Homo sapiens: one gene and its partner. The protein of the gene in region 2 interacts with the protein of the main gene of each other region in a pairwise test. Each region holds a gene or a part of one and is shown on either strand. Other genes may lie near its edges.

The links. The genes of interacting proteins can lie anywhere in the genome.
Region 1: the proteins of TMEM74 (region 2) and MS4A13 interact in binary tests that used the Homo sapiens proteins (3 or more experiments, as listed by UniProt).

Annotation. Positions count from the first base shown.
Region 1 is NC_000011.10:60,538,092-60,544,311, reverse strand, and holds the end of MS4A13 (membrane-spanning 4-domains subfamily A member 13), read right to left. Parts: intron 1,794-6,220; coding exon 1,737-1,793; 3' UTR 1,591-1,736; downstream 1-1,590. UniProt on the Homo sapiens protein: May be involved in signal transduction as a component of a multimeric receptor complex.
Region 2 is NC_000008.11:108,783,225-108,793,347, forward strand, and holds the start of TMEM74 (transmembrane protein 74), read right to left. Parts: upstream 4,371-10,123; 5' UTR 4,252-4,370; intron 1,914-4,251; 5' UTR 1,875-1,913; coding exon 957-1,874; 3' UTR 1-956. UniProt on the Homo sapiens protein: Plays an essential role in autophagy. TMEM74-induced autophagy may involve PI3K signal transduction.

The DNA.
Region 1 (6,220 bases), on a different chromosome or scaffold from region 2:
TAGGTTATTTTCTAGTCTGCCATCGTGGTGACGTCACCCCTCAATATTTTTAATTACCATCAAAATCAATCAGTTTATAGCTGATCTTTCCTCTGTCTCCAGATTTGTATTTTCAACTGTTTAATTGACGTCTCTACTTTGATGTTCTCTAGTTATCTCAAACTCAACTTATCCTAATAGAATTGATCATTTTTTCCAATTCTGTTATGTCTTATATGCTTTATATCACTGTAGGTTTTATCTAATCCAGAAACTAGGGGATTATTTTAGATTCCTTCACACTTCATGTTTAATCAGCCAGTCAGGCTAAAACTTACCACTTTTCACTGCTTCTCTGAATCACTACAATAATTATCCATTTTTCCCTCCCACAATCTAGTTGCTTTAATCAAATTTATACTTTCTAATGCATTTTCCCATATTTCATACTTTTTTCAATGTAAATCCAAGCCTATAATTTTCCTGTTGAACTACTTGCCAATGGCCTCTTACTGTCTGCAAGATTTAGTTCAATACTTTAGTATTAACTCTTTGATGATTTGACTTCTTTATTATCTGGCCTCCCCCGATCTCTCCAGCTTTCATTCTTGACTTCCTCCTCCCTGTCATTAAATTTTAATATATTTATTTTAGCTGTGATCTCTCCCACATTTCTAATAACCTAAAGTCTTCTATTCAAAATGTCTTCCTACCTTTCTGTTTGGTAAACTACTAATCCCCTGCTCAGGGGTCTTTCATAAAGCTTTATTACTCTTATTTCACATCTGAAGGATTATTTCTTCTGTCTTATTTCTACTTTTTTATACTCTGTTTATATGTCATACATAGTCTTAACTTGGTAGCTGTTTGTTTCCTCCCCTAAAATAAGTCTCCTTGTCATCAGGTACCTTATTAATTGTTGATACTCCAGAGCTTAAGATATTATTCATTGGCATACAGTAGACAATCTGAAAAAAAATGAGATAAGTGCTGAAATTCTTAGAATCAAGTAACCTTAGTTTGCAGTGTTAGATAACAATTAGTGAAACATCTTTCTGAAGTAATATTCCATATTAGAAGAGAGGGTGAATTGAATTCAGAACCGATTTCTAGAAAATTCTCCTTATTGTGGACAGTCTGTCTGCTTTGAAAAGCAGTTGAACAGGTGATCCAAACAATGATAAGAAGAAAGAAGCAAGGGGAAAGAAAGATAAGAAAGATAGCAGATATGTTCAGGGCAGAAAGGAACTTTAAATAAGGAGAAGAGAAGTCAAAGAACAATGAAGGAAATATGAATTAGAGGCCTTTTGATTCATACTTTGATAGAAGCTAGTTAAAGTAGAAGAACTCAGACTGTAAAATGTGCTTTCTGCTTGTATGGACATAAGTATTTAAAGTTTTCCTGTGAATTATACGACATCATGGCCCAAGTCTTTATAGCCTTCACTCTAGAGATAATAATGAATCTTTTTTACAGTCTCTTACAAAAGCTTTATTATGGAGAGTTGACAGCTATTCAGCGTACCTAGATAACACATTCATCCTGTAATAATCTCATATTTAAATAGGGAAAAACTTTCCTTGCAGCCTAGAAAAATATAAGCAGAGACATTTTTGAATGAGGAGAAAAATTCACCTTGTTTGTATTTTATTTTGCACAAAATCTGTAGGCTTCGTAACTGCTTTGTTATACAGAGATATCATTAGGACCCACACCAGGCATCAGCAACAGCAAAATTCTCATATTTCTAGGGTTTTTAAGGAGTGCTCTCAGCTTCCTCAGTAACAGATGTAAGATCATTTTGTCTTCGAAACTGGAAAAAAAGTAACCTCTTACAAATCATATCATGTTTCTTAATATTATACAACTAATAAATAGATCTTTTTCTTAAAAAATACAGGTAATACTGATATTTATAGAGTGAAATCTTAAAGTATCCTATTTCTGTCCCATTCCTATTTCAACCTTATTTCTTTCTTCCTTTCTTTCTCTTTCTCTTTCTTTCTTTCTTCCCTTCCTCCCTTCCTCCCTTTCTTCTTTCTTTCTCTTTCTTTCTTTCCTTTTTCTTTCTTTCTTTCTCTTTTTCTTTCTCCTTCCTTCCTTCCTTTCTTTCTTTCCTTCCTCCCTTCCTCCCTTTCTTCCCTTTCTTCTTTCTTTCTCTCTCTCTCTTTTTCCTTCCTACATTCCTTCCTTCCTTGGGTTTTTTTTTTTTTTCAAGGTCTTGTTCTGTTTTCAAGGTCATGTCGCCCAGGCTGGAGTGCAGTGGTGCGATCTCGGCTCACTGCAACCACCTCTCTTTCAGGTTCAGACTCAAGAGATTCTCATGCCCCAGCCACCCGAGTAGTTAGGATTACAGGCCTGTGCCACCATGCCTGGCTAATTTTTTTGTATTTTTAGTAGAGACGGGGTTTCACCATGTTGACCAAGCTGATCTTGAACTCCTGGCCTCAAGTGATCCTCCTGCTTCAGACTCCCAAAGTGTTATGATTACAGGTGTGAGCCACCATGCCCAGCCTTCAACCTACTTTCTTAATTTCTGTTGGATCACTTGTATCTTTTGGTGTACCTTCAAACTTTTATAATAAAAATAACCATAGTCTTCTTGAACATAAATCTTAATAGATGCCAGCACCCTAGCCTCTCATGACATTTCTCAACCATTACCTATTCCTTCCCTTCAAGGTAATGGTCATTTTGACTTTTAGATAAGGTCAATTTTTTTTCTAGTTTCATGAACTAAGCTTCATCCCTAAACACTATAGGTTAGCTTTAGTTTTACCTGGTTTCAAACTTCATATGAATGGATTTTTTTACAAGTATGCATTCTTTTGAGTTTTTATACTCAACATTTTATTTGTAAGATCCATCCATGATGTTAAGTGCAGGTATAGTTGCTTTTAATCACCATGTCAAATTTGAATGAAGTAATACACCTCAACTTATTCATCACTCACCCACCTGTGTTGTTTCCACTTTGGGACTACTATGAATAATACTGCTCTCTATATATTCCTGGAAGTTTATCTTAATGCATAAGCGCAAACATTTCTGTTGGTTATATACCAAAGACTTAAATTACTGATCATAGGGTATGCACATTTTAATTTTTAGTAGGTAATGCCCAAAAGGTTTTAAAAATTGTTGCAATAACTTATATTTCAACTAGGAGTTTGAGAGATATTTCTTTTATCTACAATCTTTGCTATCAGTTGGCATTGTCAATAGTTTGAAATTCAGTCATTCCAGTAGGTACTTTAAAATATCTCTGTCATTTTAATGTTATTATTACAATGAATAGATTTATATCTGACATTTTATTATTTGTTTTATACACGTCTCATGTGTTTTCTTTTCCTTTCCTTTTTTTTTTTTTTTGTGAGATAGGGTTTTACTCTGTCACCCACACTGGGGTACGGTGGCCTGAATATGGCTCATTGCAGCCTTGACCTCCTGGGTTCCAAGTGATCCTCCCACCTCAGCTGCCTAAGTAGCTGGGACCACAGGCATGTGGCACTATGCATAGCTAGTGTTTTTATTTTTACTTTTTTGTAGAGATGAGGTCTCGTCATGTTGCCCAGGCTGGTCTTGAACTCCTGGGCTCATATGGTCTTCCCGAGTTGGCCTCCCAAAATGCTGGGAATATGGGTGTTAACCAACCAAGCCTGGCCATTGTGTTCTTTCTTTATTTTTTAAAAATTAAACATACTTTGTGTATGTTAATTCCCTTGTTTTTAAGCTATTATATTTTTAGCTTGCTTAATCACTAAATAAGCACCCTAATTTATCACAGTCTACTTCAGATGAATGCTAATTCAATTCCAGTAAAATACAGCAACTTTATTCCCATATAACTCATTCCCTTTCCTTTTCTTTGTGCTATTATTGTCATCTATTCTATCTATATATATTATGTAACTACCAATATGGTGTTATAATTACTGCTTTTATAATCTTATCTTTTAAAATTTAAGAGAAAAATTGAGAAACTGTCTATTGAAGAAGGGTTGGCAAGCTATGATACATGGACCAAATCTAGCCCACTCCCGTTTTTGCAAATAAAGTTTTGCTGGAACAAGCCATATCCATTCCTTTATGTATTGTCTATGAATACTTTCATGCTAAAAGGTGGAGCTGAGTAGTTATGACAGATGGAATTAATGTTACTAATAACACGACCTTAAATTAAGGTAATCATCCTGGATTACCTGGGTGAGCCCAATGCAATTAATGCTACTGTCTTTTAAATCAGTTAACAGAAGAAAACACAAAAGATGTATTTATACTGATTTTCATAACCACCTACATAATTACTTTTACTGGCACTTTTTTTATTTATTCATGTGCATTTGAGTTTCATCTGATGTCACTTCAGTCTAAAGAACTTCCTTTAGTGTTTCTCATGAGGAATTTCTGCTAGCAACACATTATTCATCTGTGTATGTCTGTATTTCACCTTCATTTTTGAGGGATAGTTTTAAAGGATAAAGAATTCCTGCCTGACTGTTTTTCCCCCTGCACTTTAATATCCCATTCCACTACCTTCAGGCCTCCATTGTTTTGGATGAGAACCCAGCTGTTTATATTATTGTGGTTCCCTTATATATGAAGAGTCTTGTTTTTATTTTTTTTTGCTGCTTTCAAGATTTTCTTTTTTATCAGTTTGACATGGAGGTGTCTAGGAGGATCTCTTTGTGTTTATTTTACTTGAAGATCCTTGAGCTTTTTGGATGTATTGAATGTTTTCCATGAAATTAGGGGAATTTGGGAGCCATTATTTCTTTAATTTTTTTTCTGGTACTCCCCATTTTTATGGGACTCCCATTATACATGTGATGGTATCTCAAAGGATTTTGAGGTTCTGTACAGTTTTCTTCATTTTCTTTTTTTCCTGTTCTTCGGACTGGGCAATATCTTTTTTGCTCTCTTTATGTCTGTTTATTTTGTTTTTTGTCAGCTCACCTCTGTTCTTGAGTTCCTCTAGTGGTTTTTCATTTCAGTTCTTGTATTTTTAAACTCTAGAACCTCCATTGGGTTTTTCATAATTTCTGTCTCTTTTATTGACTTTTATTTGATGAATCATTGTTGCCATCTTATAATTCTTCAAACATATTTACTTTACTAAATTTTTTTTTTTTTTTTTTTGAAACAACACTCATTTATTAACTCATAGTTCTGCAAGTCAGTATTCTGGGTAGCCTCAGCTGGTTTTCTGCTTAGGGTCTCCCAAGACTGAAATCAAGTTGTTGGCTGTCCTGGGCTATTATCTGGAGGGCCAGGAGAAGAATCCCCTTCTAAGATCATTCAGGTTGTTTGCAGAACTCAGTTCCTTGCAGTTGTAGAACTGATGGCTCCATTTCTTTGCTGGTTTTTGACAGGCAGCTGCTCTCAGCTCCTAGAGGCTTCTTTCTGGTCCTTGCATGTGGCCCCCTCCACCTTCAAGGCCAGCAATGGAGATGCATTCAACCCTTATCATGATTCAAATCTCTCTGACTTCCCTTTCTGCCATCAGCCAGATAAAACTTTCTCCTTTTAAAGAGCTTAGGGGCTTAGATTAGGCCTACCCAGATAATTTCCTTTTTGCTGTGTCATGTAACATAGTGATAGGAGTAACCCCAGGAAGTGAAAGTCATAGGGATTATCTTAAAATTCTGCCTCTCATAGGATAGATGGGACACCAGGCTGGCAACTTACCTTCAAATAATTCAGGGAAAAAAATTTCTGTACTGTCCCTGCAATTTTTTTTTTTATTTTTATTTCTTAAAATTTTATTTTTAATTGACATAATCATTGCAGATATATTTATGGGGTACAATGTGATGTTTTGATATGTTTACAGGGTGGAATGATTAAATCAGGCTAATTAACAAATTCATAACCTCATATACTTACTACTTTTCTTTGTGATGAAAACATTTAAAATCAACTCTTTTGGTAGTTTTGGAATATCCAGTGCATGATTAGTTATTATAGTCCCCAGTCTACGTAATTGATCCCTAAAGCTTACTCCTCCTGTCTAACGAAAACTGTATGGCCTTTGATCAACACCTTTTTGCCTCATCTATGCCCCATCGGCCCCCAGCCTCTGGTATTCATCATTCTACCTTCTGCTTCTATGAGTTCAACTTTGTTTTTTTTTTTCGTTTTTTTTTTTTTTATTATACTTTAAGTTTTAGGGTACATGTGCACATTGTGCAGGTTAGTTACATATGTATACATGTGCCATGCTGGTGCGCTGCACCC
Region 2 (10,123 bases):
CTATTGGTGGTTTTCCCCAAACAGCAATAACAAGATGTTACCTGGAAGCACACCAGAGCCAATCATGACTCAGGCCTGTCTAGATGTTTAGATGTCTGGAAATATATTTAAAATGTCTCATGCCTTGCCTCTTGCTGCTGGTGTGAGAACCAGCAGACTTCAAGAGCACAGATAACCAGTATGATGGCAAAATCACAAAATATAAAACTTATATCAGTAACTAATTTGACTTCATTTTAAAAAAGAGCCTGTGACCCTGGCTAATATCTGGCACCAACACTGTGGTTTAAATTCACATTGGTCTTACAATGATTTACATAATTTTTTTTTATTAGAAAGTTTATCCTAATGACTTAATTACCATTTTTGAAAACAGGAATAATTTCAAACATAACATTTTTTACAATAAGGAAAGCCCAACATCCTCAAACTTCAAAATATTCAAACTAAAAATTCCATGTTTTAGTGTTTAGCCAAATTACAAGAAGGATAATTTAGCAAGAAAATGGATAAGCACCTTTGAGAATTAGATGTAAGCCTTATTATTGATTAGTGCTTAGTTCTTTTTCACAAAGTAGATTAGCAATTGATCCTACTGTGTGTAGGACCACCTAGTGTCCAAAGAATAACATCATATATTTGTGTAAAAGAAATAATTTGTAGACTGGGTCATTAGAAATATTTTTCTATCGAAGTAGAAGTTCTTGGCCATTACAGATTAATTAGCCTTCAGCTCTTCAGAAGGATAGGTGTGGCTGGTTGTGGTTTCTTATACATCTTACATGGCTTTTCTTCTAAATAGAAGACACATAGAGAACAAAAACACTTACTGGCTGTTGGTTTGTGAAATAAACTTTTCTTGCCAGGCAAATAAATTGCACTGTGAATTTTTATAAATTAACTTTTTTCATATTATAAAATGCCAAGGCAGACTCTCAAGATATTCACAACCAGAATTAACTCTGTACAGCAAGCGCATCTTCCTCTACCAAGGACAGTTCCAGAGTGTTTTCATTCGTGCTGGTTTTCATCCTGAAGTTGAAAGAACCATAGAGTTTTGCAGACTCTTTGGAAGAGGCAAATCTGTTTCGACGATAGAGCTCCCCCTTCCACATGGACATCATTAACAAGCAGGACAGGATGACGCCCCCCAGCGTGAGGAGGCAGAGCCCCGCAATCACACAGCGGTCCAGGTGAGCCCCCAGCCTCGCACTCTCCTTCTCCAGGCGCTCCATCTCCCGGGCTGCCACAGTGTTGGGGTCCACAGTCACTTCCCGTGGGACGATGTAAGAGATGATCACGAGCAGGATCCCAGTGACCAAGAACAAGATGGCGCTGATGAAACCATAGTCTATAGACTTCCCTGAAGACGTGGCTTCTGAACTTGTATCATCCTCCTCTTCAGATATCAAAGATATGGCAGCCTCTTGGGACCACTCATTTGGATTTTCCCAGCCAAGCTCCCCAGGGTGATTATGCCCTTTTGCTGATGGCGAGCTCCGGTTCCGCTGCTCCAAGTTGATGTTTTTGTCCACATAGGTAAAAGAAGTTTCTAATTCCTGGCTGCAGCAGTTACAGACTTTCCGTTCCGCTGTTATTTGGTTGTTCCCTGAGTGGAGAAGTCCTGGTGGAAAGGCATCTGGCTGAAGAGTACTGTTTTGCAGAGAGGAGGAGGGGGATGCTGGAGAAGAACTAAGTTTAGACCCTTCCATCTCGGTTGCTCTTGGGGTGGATGCACACTGTTTCTGACAGCAGAGAGCAGCTCTTGTGGCTGCTGTATCTGCCTGGTCACCAGGCAGCCCTCTTGAACTCCAGTCCCTGGCATCACAGAGGTCTGCCTGGTTGCTCTTCTTAGCAAGGTAGTGGAGCTCCATGAGAGCTAGTCAGACATCCCCCAGCAGCTTCCGGAAAGTCTGCCAATAGCAACAGAGTTAGATAAGAACCCAACAGAAGCTAAGGTTGTACTTCCAGGAGTGTTGCTCCTGGGGTCCCCATTTCCTTCACAGCTGCACCTGTTTAGCCCCTTTTCCACCTCAAACAGGCAAAAGAAGGGAGGGGATACCTAGTGGCAGGAAAGTGTGGAAGGGACAAATGCTCTCACTTGTCATAGTGATTAACACTGAGAAACTTAAGTCAGGGTAGAAAGGTGCGTGGAGGAAGTGGCAGTGTCTACTGAGAAAGAATACTGCCGTCACCAAGCCAAATTTATTCAAGGACTCGCGCATTCCTGCAAAAGGATCCCTCAAACGAGAAGGCAAGTTTCCTGTAAAAAGACAAATGAGAAAGGCAAGAGCCCTTTTTAGCAGAGCTGCCGATTTTCTGGAGGACTTGGGGAAGCATAGACTTGTTAATTCAGTAAGATTGTAAGTGTTTACACTCTCCCTAGTTCAGAGCAAATTCTAATACAGATTAGCTTTGGAGCATCACCATCAGTGAATGACTATACACCCCTATCAGCTGGGCAGGAACTCAGCATTTTGATTCCATAGCTCTGAAGTAGATGAAAAAGGCCAGCTTAATCAGCCACCTCTGCTAAGCTTACACCTCATACATCCAATGACCCTAGTGACACAGCCCTGTATTTACAAGACCATATGCTGCTTATTCACTGTGCTTCCACTTAGCCCTATTCCCTCACTGCTCCATGGGGGAAGCATGTTCTGGACCCCAAAGCATACAGGCAACAGACCTTACGGCAATCCCTGCAAAATACAATGGGCCAACCCACTCCTCCACACACACACCTGCCTGCTCCAGCTGCAGGATCTGCTACTCCCGTTCCCTGGGTCTGTGTTCCTCCCTCTCTGCATGCTTTGCTATCACACAATGCACAAGAAATTGACCATCTGGATAGTTTTACAAACCCAATCTAGAAGTGAACTGATAATAAAAGACAAACTATAAACCCACAGAGTAAGAGTTCTGTGGAGACAAATAGGTGAGAAGCTATTTCCAAGGTTACCTCTGTAATTTTATAAACATGTCACTCCTCACCCCCGACTGCAGCAAGGGGCATTTCTGGGAGAGAACTTTGGTTTGAGCAGAAAACCATCGGCTTTTCTCTGCCTCTGCCATGTTTCTAAGGAATAAAAATTCACTTTCCACTATCATTAGAGATTTTAACCAAAGGCTCCTTTTATTTTGCTTCCAAATCCAGGGTGATAATTGATTTAACCCAACGGCTTGAGGCTTCTTATAATTCAAAATCCACAGCTCCAAAGCTGGTAACAGAAACACAGGCAAGGGTCACCTAAGGTCAACCTGGCAACTCAAAATATGGGAGAGGGAATTGACATGTTTTCTGCTACACCTAAGAGTTTGTTTAAAACAAAACAAAAAAAGCAAAACAGAAAACGTTTTTCTCCTGTTATCGGAGTTTCTCTACAGTGAAAACAGCAAAAAACAACAGGGCAAAAGAATCACTACTAAACTAGAACAAACCCCCACTAAAGGATCCCTCAATGAATGAAGTGATGGTAACAGGCTTCATCAATTACCGATAACTCTTCTTCCAGTTTTCTCAGGCATTAGGGGCTCTGATTAACCTTTGGTACCATTAACTCATCACACTAGCCTACCTTGGATAAAATCAGCAGGGTTCTTTGAGACTTTCAGTTTATAACAAAAGAAGAGAGAAATCCCCACTTAATTCCCTACGGCCGCCTCTACCTCTCTTTAAAGAAAAGCTACTCCCGCTTGTTCGCTTGTTCTACCGGAGGTATGCTAGCAGCACAGTCGATTTCCTTTGCAGCTCCCTAATCCGGGGTTTCCATTCTCAGTGGAGAATGGATAATCCCAGGGGACCAGCTAAAGACTCTTTTCTTCCGTCCTCTCCCTCTTTTTCCTCTGATCTGCTTAAAAGCCCAGTTAACGACATTGCACCTTAAAGCGAGGGGACACGCACTTTCCCTCGTCCATCTGTCATCAATTAAAAGCATTAATATTTGCTTTAAACTGACACAGGCAAGGCTGATCTCGGGGAGGCGACCTCTGGATGCGCCCTGTGCGAGCAAAGCCGGGAGAGCGAGCCCCAAGCACCTGGCAGCGGTGCCCCCAGCAGGCGCCGAGGAATCCGGCTATCCATTTCTGGTGAACTCTGCGCCCACTGAGGCATTCGAGGTACGGATGTGTCCGCCTAGTACTCGGAGACGAAGGAGAGAGAGCGGGGATATGCGCTCCAGCTCTGCTAGGCTCCAGGGCTCTCACCCTTGCATTCAAAGCCTCCACCCCATCCCACTCCCCGCCACTCACCTTCTGCTTCGGCCACCCGGTGCGGCTCCAGCACCGCGCGCTCTCCCGGCACGGTTCCCGGAGAAAGTCCCCCAATCACCAGCTACGGCACTTGTAGCCTCTGCACGCCGCTCGGCTCCGCCGGGTGGGCAGCGCCCGCCACGGCGGGCGGGGTGGGGCGGGGCGGGGCGCTCCCGGAGCATCCCGGGAGTTGTAGGCCAGGGGCGGTCCCTGCATCCCTCCTGTCTCTGTCTCCTCCCACGCCTTCTGGGTTTTACCCTTCCTGCAGATGAGTTCCCGCCATACCCTCTTACTCCTCCCCAGCACTTAAGAAGACAGCACTGTTTTCTAAGCCTAGAGTGGAGTTCCCTAGCCTCAGGTGTGGCCACAAGACTGTGAAAAGGAAAGTATATTCGACTTCAAATGTGCCAGATAATTTGCATATTTTGTCTTTTTAATAGTCAAAACAAATCTTCCAAGTAGATTTTATTAATCCTCATTTTACAGATGTGGAAACAGGCTCAGAGAGGGTAAGTGCCTCATCCACAGTTACCAACAGCAGCTTCTGAAATTGCATCCAGGAGTCAGATTCGAAAGTCATTGCGTGTCTCACAAAATCAGAAGAAATATGACCATAAGGGGTAAGAGATTGTCCGATGTACCAACACATCCCCTGTATTTAGCACAGTGGTATTCGTTGAATGTATGAATAATAATGACTCAAAATAACAGTTAACATAAATAGCGCTTATTATTGCCAGGCTCTCTTCTAAGCACTATAGATACATTATCTCATTTAATGGTCACAATTTATTGTTAAAGTACTGTAAAAAAAAATCCTCATTTTAACAGAAGGCAAAACTGAGTTACAAAGTAGAATAATTTGCCCAATGTCACACAACTAATACTTAGCAGAGGTGGGGGGGGGGGGATGAACACCAACAGATTCTAAGCGTTATGCTATATGGAATGAATGGAAGAAAGACCAGAAGGCCAGAATAAAAGGGCTCAGGAATAAAGGAAATCTGAAGGTTGAATCTTCTGAGTTGTGACTCTTAGGATAGGACAAGGTAACTGTGTCACCAGCCTCTTTCAACCAGAGTGGACTGCAATAGCCAACAGCCACTGAAAGCCCAGGGTATGTGTAGCTTGCAGATAATCTCCAGTTTTCCAGCATCCTGTTGGGACAATTCTAGGGGAGCAAAAAAGGATTATAGTATGGATGGGCTGGGCACGATGGCTCACGCCAGTAATGCCAGCAATTTGGGAGGCCGAGGCGGGCAGATCACGAGGTCAGAAAATCGAGACCATCCTGGCCAACATGGTGAAACCCCGTCTCTACTAAAATAGAAAAAATTAGCCGGGCGTGGTGGCGCGTGCCTGTACTCCCAGCTACTCAGGAGGCTGAGGCAGGGGAATCGCTTGAAGCCGGAGGCGGAGGTTGCAGTGAGCAGAGATCGTGCCACTGCACCACTCCAGCCTGGCGACAAAGCAAGACTCCGTCTCAAAAAAAAAAAAAAGAAAAAAAGAAAAAAGGGATTAGGGATTATAGTATGTATTATGACATTGTGCTTGTAGCTCACATAAATACTGTGGTTGCTTGCTTTCAAAAGAGAGATCTATCTCCTTTAATGACAATTATGTTGGTATTTCATTACATTGGATAGAATCTATAGTCACATGATTACAGGAGTTCACAATGCTCCCTCTTTAAAATTCTTTTTCCCCCATATGATTATATTTGTAGCCAGTGAGGCCCATTTGTTGATAAACATGACAGATGTATTATGACTTCTCCTTTGCTTACTACACGGTTCTCCAGCATGAATATCTTTCCTCCACTGCCCTATTCCATCCACACTTCAAGGACTAGTTTGTCAAGCCAAATCTACAGGGATGCATCCAGTTCTTAGTACTACATATGCAAAAAGAAATAAAGAGAGAAACTAAGATGTAGAAGGAACTTGAATTTATGTTGACGAGGAAAAACTTAGGAACTTAGGCTATTTAGCCATAGGAGAATACTGAGAGGAAACAATAAACTAGCTTCAAATATTCTGAAGTTTCTAAAAATAGAAGAAGAATTCTATAGTATATTTAAAAGGGTAAAAGCAGAACAAATAACAATAATACTTTTTTGTTAGTGCTATTATGTTATCATCTTTAATTTTTACACCAACTTCACAAGGGAGGCAGTATTATTGCACCCATTTTGCAATGTAGAAATTGAGGCTTGAAAAGATGTAGTTTCTTTTCCAAGGCCTGAAAACTAATATCGGGCAGAGCTAAGGTTCTAACTTGGGTCTGTGTGATTCCAGAGACTTGATCTCTTTGCCAACACATTATACTGAGCAATGCTTCACAATCTTTTTTACAGCAGAGTACACATAAGAGGTGATACTATTTATGGCAATGTGATAAACACAGGAGGTTTCTCATGGCCATAGTTCTGGGGCTGTGGGTACTTCAGTCTCTGCAGGACAGCTTGGAGGGCTAAGGAAATAAATAAGTCAGCACACCTGTGACACACTGGAGTGCTGGAGGATGCCAAAGCACTGATCTGAGAAGCTCTGGATAGCACTATTAAATTTAAGAAGGAGGCTGATTTGAGACTTTGTATAAGGAAGGACATTATTTCTAAAACTTTTAAATTGATGTCTCATGAAAGCAAATTCTCTGGTACTGGTGAGGATTAAAAAAAAAAAGGAGAGCCATTTATTAGTGATTTCATAGAAGGGATTCATCTAGTTGGATTAGAGGACCTCTGTGATTCCCAGGCTGAACTGATTTTAAGTTACTTTTTTTTTTTCCCTGAAGCCTTTTTCTTCCAAGGATTACACCTCCTGTGAACTTTGCTGGGACTTGTCAGTACTGGTGTTTTTGATATTTATCATCCACTGCTTTACGACATTTCTGGAATGGCTAGGTAGCCACTGCATGTGGTTTAACTTCTCACTTAGGTGCCTAAATCTCTAAGGTAATCAATCATAAACTCCTTAAGGTCAGCATCTACATGCTGAACACCTTACCTCCTGCAGAAAGTGCAGTATTTCTGTTGAGAGGGAAGATGTCAAGACTGAACTGAAGACTCGAGATGATTACCTATAATAATACTTGACTGTCTACATATTCTTGAGCATTAAAAATATATCAATTCCAACCAACACCACAAAATCCCCTTTAAAAGTCTGCTGACAAAAAATAGAGATGAACCAATTGAGCACTTGAAAATAAAAGCTCTGCAAAAATTGCCACTTGCTGGAATACTTTCCCCCTCTCTCATAAGTCTATGTCTAAAACTTTCCTGAAAATTGACCCAAGAACCTTTTTCAAAAGCCTTTCTTGTTCAACGTCCTCAACTTATCGTTACCTTTCTAACTGGCTTTCTAGTAGCATAATATGCTTTCTTTTATGCTGTTATTTTAGATATAGAAAAGTATTTCATGTATATTTTATAGTGCTTTCTATGTGATCTCTCCAGATAAAATTTAAGCTCCTTGAGAACCAACATATTCTTTCTATTTCTTTGAAGCTATATGTGGGCATGAAATAGTGCGACACATAGGCAACAGTAGTTCCTCAATATATGCTGATAAAACAATTCACAGTTGTAAAATGTTATCTAGAAATCTACATAATGATTTTGGTCTTACTCTAATTTTAATGTCTCACATTTTCCTGTTTACTTATACTCCGTTTCATGTGAGAGGAGCAATCGTTACTACACTAAGTTAACTAGTTGAAAAATAAGAAAAATTCTGAGAAGTAAATTTACCATGTAAATCAAGGGTAGTGCTGGGACTTTTAACAACCAGCCTCTTGTAATAATTACTGAGGATGTGTTCCAGTTTCTTTTTCTTCAGTAATAATAATAAGGGCTGATTAGTGGACTATTAAGGGATTATTAGTGGAGTTATTATTATGAGAGGCTGGGTCCTAGAGAAGTAAGAAAGACATTTTTGGAATAGGCTGGAGGGAGGATCAGTCATTGAATAGGGATAGCATGAGGAATATGGTCCTATACCCCATACTGGTGCTAAGAATGAAGGTGACCATAATTTAGAGAATGAAGATCTTGTTAATGAACAAGATTCTAGGAACAAAAAAAAGCATTAAATTAGAAAGGTTTCCATTTAATAAGAATGCTTACAGTGGCCAAGTAGGCATGTTACTTAAATAAAGTGGCTGAATACAGACAATAGGGATGGGGAAGATTACCGAAGTTAAGAGCAAGTGCCTTTCCCAAAAGGGGCAGTATCCCCTAACTGTTCTACCTGAGTTTTGTCTTAAGTGAATTTAGACATTAATGAAAGTCAGATATCACAATTTGTTATTCAAAATTCAATGTATTTTAAACCCTTAATGAGTCAGAGAAAAAAAAAATTATTGGGAACATTTGTTTCCCGTAGTAATAGACTAGGTAATTTAGACCTACTCACTGCATTTGGCTTTGAAGAAATGTATTTATATTTGAAACATTTAGAGAACCCAAAATTATTGCATCCAAGGAGCAAAGATTTTTTTTTTCTATCTTTTGGGGAGGGGTGGAAAAGATAGTTTTCTCTTGCTTCTGTATGTAAACACACTAAATTATTTTTTTCTCTTGTTTCTCATCTGTGATACAGACTTCAAAGTTTGTACGCCTAGGACATCTGACCTGGCTTTCACTGTGTTGTGCCAAGGGTAAGAATTGGGATCCAGAGGACCGCATGGTCATTATTTGCTCTTAAGTAAATCATCTGTTTCTGATCCAACACCATGTGTACCTTCAGGATAAAATTAATAAATATGAATATTAAAAACACAACAATAAAACTCAAGAAAAGAAGCTAGCCACTAAAAAATACACAATGTGCAGTTCTATTACATAATTTCATTGATATTTAGTTAGTTAAGAGGCAAACTATACCAAAGTATTTGGAGATGTTAGCAAAACAATAAAGAAAAGCAAGAATGCAGTTACCATAAATGTCAAGAGGTAGGTTGCCTTTGTAAGGGAAGAAAAGAGTAGTGATTCTGAGAAGACTAAAGGGGAGGCTTCTGAGACCTGGCACTATTTCTTGACCCGGATGTGTTTACAAGGGTGTTCTCTTTGAGCTAAATTATCGGAGGTAACCCTCTTTATTTCATGTACTTTTCTATATGCAGTTGTTCATGATAAAAAGCTGTTGGATTGGATTCAGCTGTTGGAGTGGATTCAGGTTCCAAACACCTAATTTGCAATCTCTGCATTAAGGGTTTATATCAAAATCTAAGCGTTCTGTTTTACCTTAAGAAGAACCTGAAGATAGTTTTCTCTGACTTACCTTCACCTGGCATCTTGCTATGCATGGCAGGGTGAGGAGTGTACAAAGGTATGCTATTCAGATTCTCCCGAAACGCTTACAACATTAGGATTTAAAGTAATCTGGGCACTGATATCTCAAAATAAGAAATATGGAAACATTTCATGTCTAATATTTTGTATATAAACTTTATGACACCTTTAGAAAGCACAATATGGGGAGAATATTGGACATTGGTAGAAGGATTTGGGTCTGTTGGTTGCATAAAGGCCCTGTTGTCTTTAGGCCACAGATTTCCTTTATAATTAAACTTACTAGAAACAAGACTGCATTCACTGGCCCTAATCTTGTACCTTCATTTTCTTTTTAATCTACTATTGCTGTTAGGGTCCATGTTAATTTAATTAAGTAAAAAACACAAGTTGACAGCTATGGGTTGAATCTGATCTAAATACATGGTTTTATTGGTGCATTGAGTTGTTACAATTTATTTAGGTATTTATCAAATTTGGAAATTTGGAAGATTTGAGAAAGCTATTTGGATTTCTGGTTTCTCTTGAATTATATGAAAAATCCTGAAACGTGGACCTCACTTTTGTATGTTAACA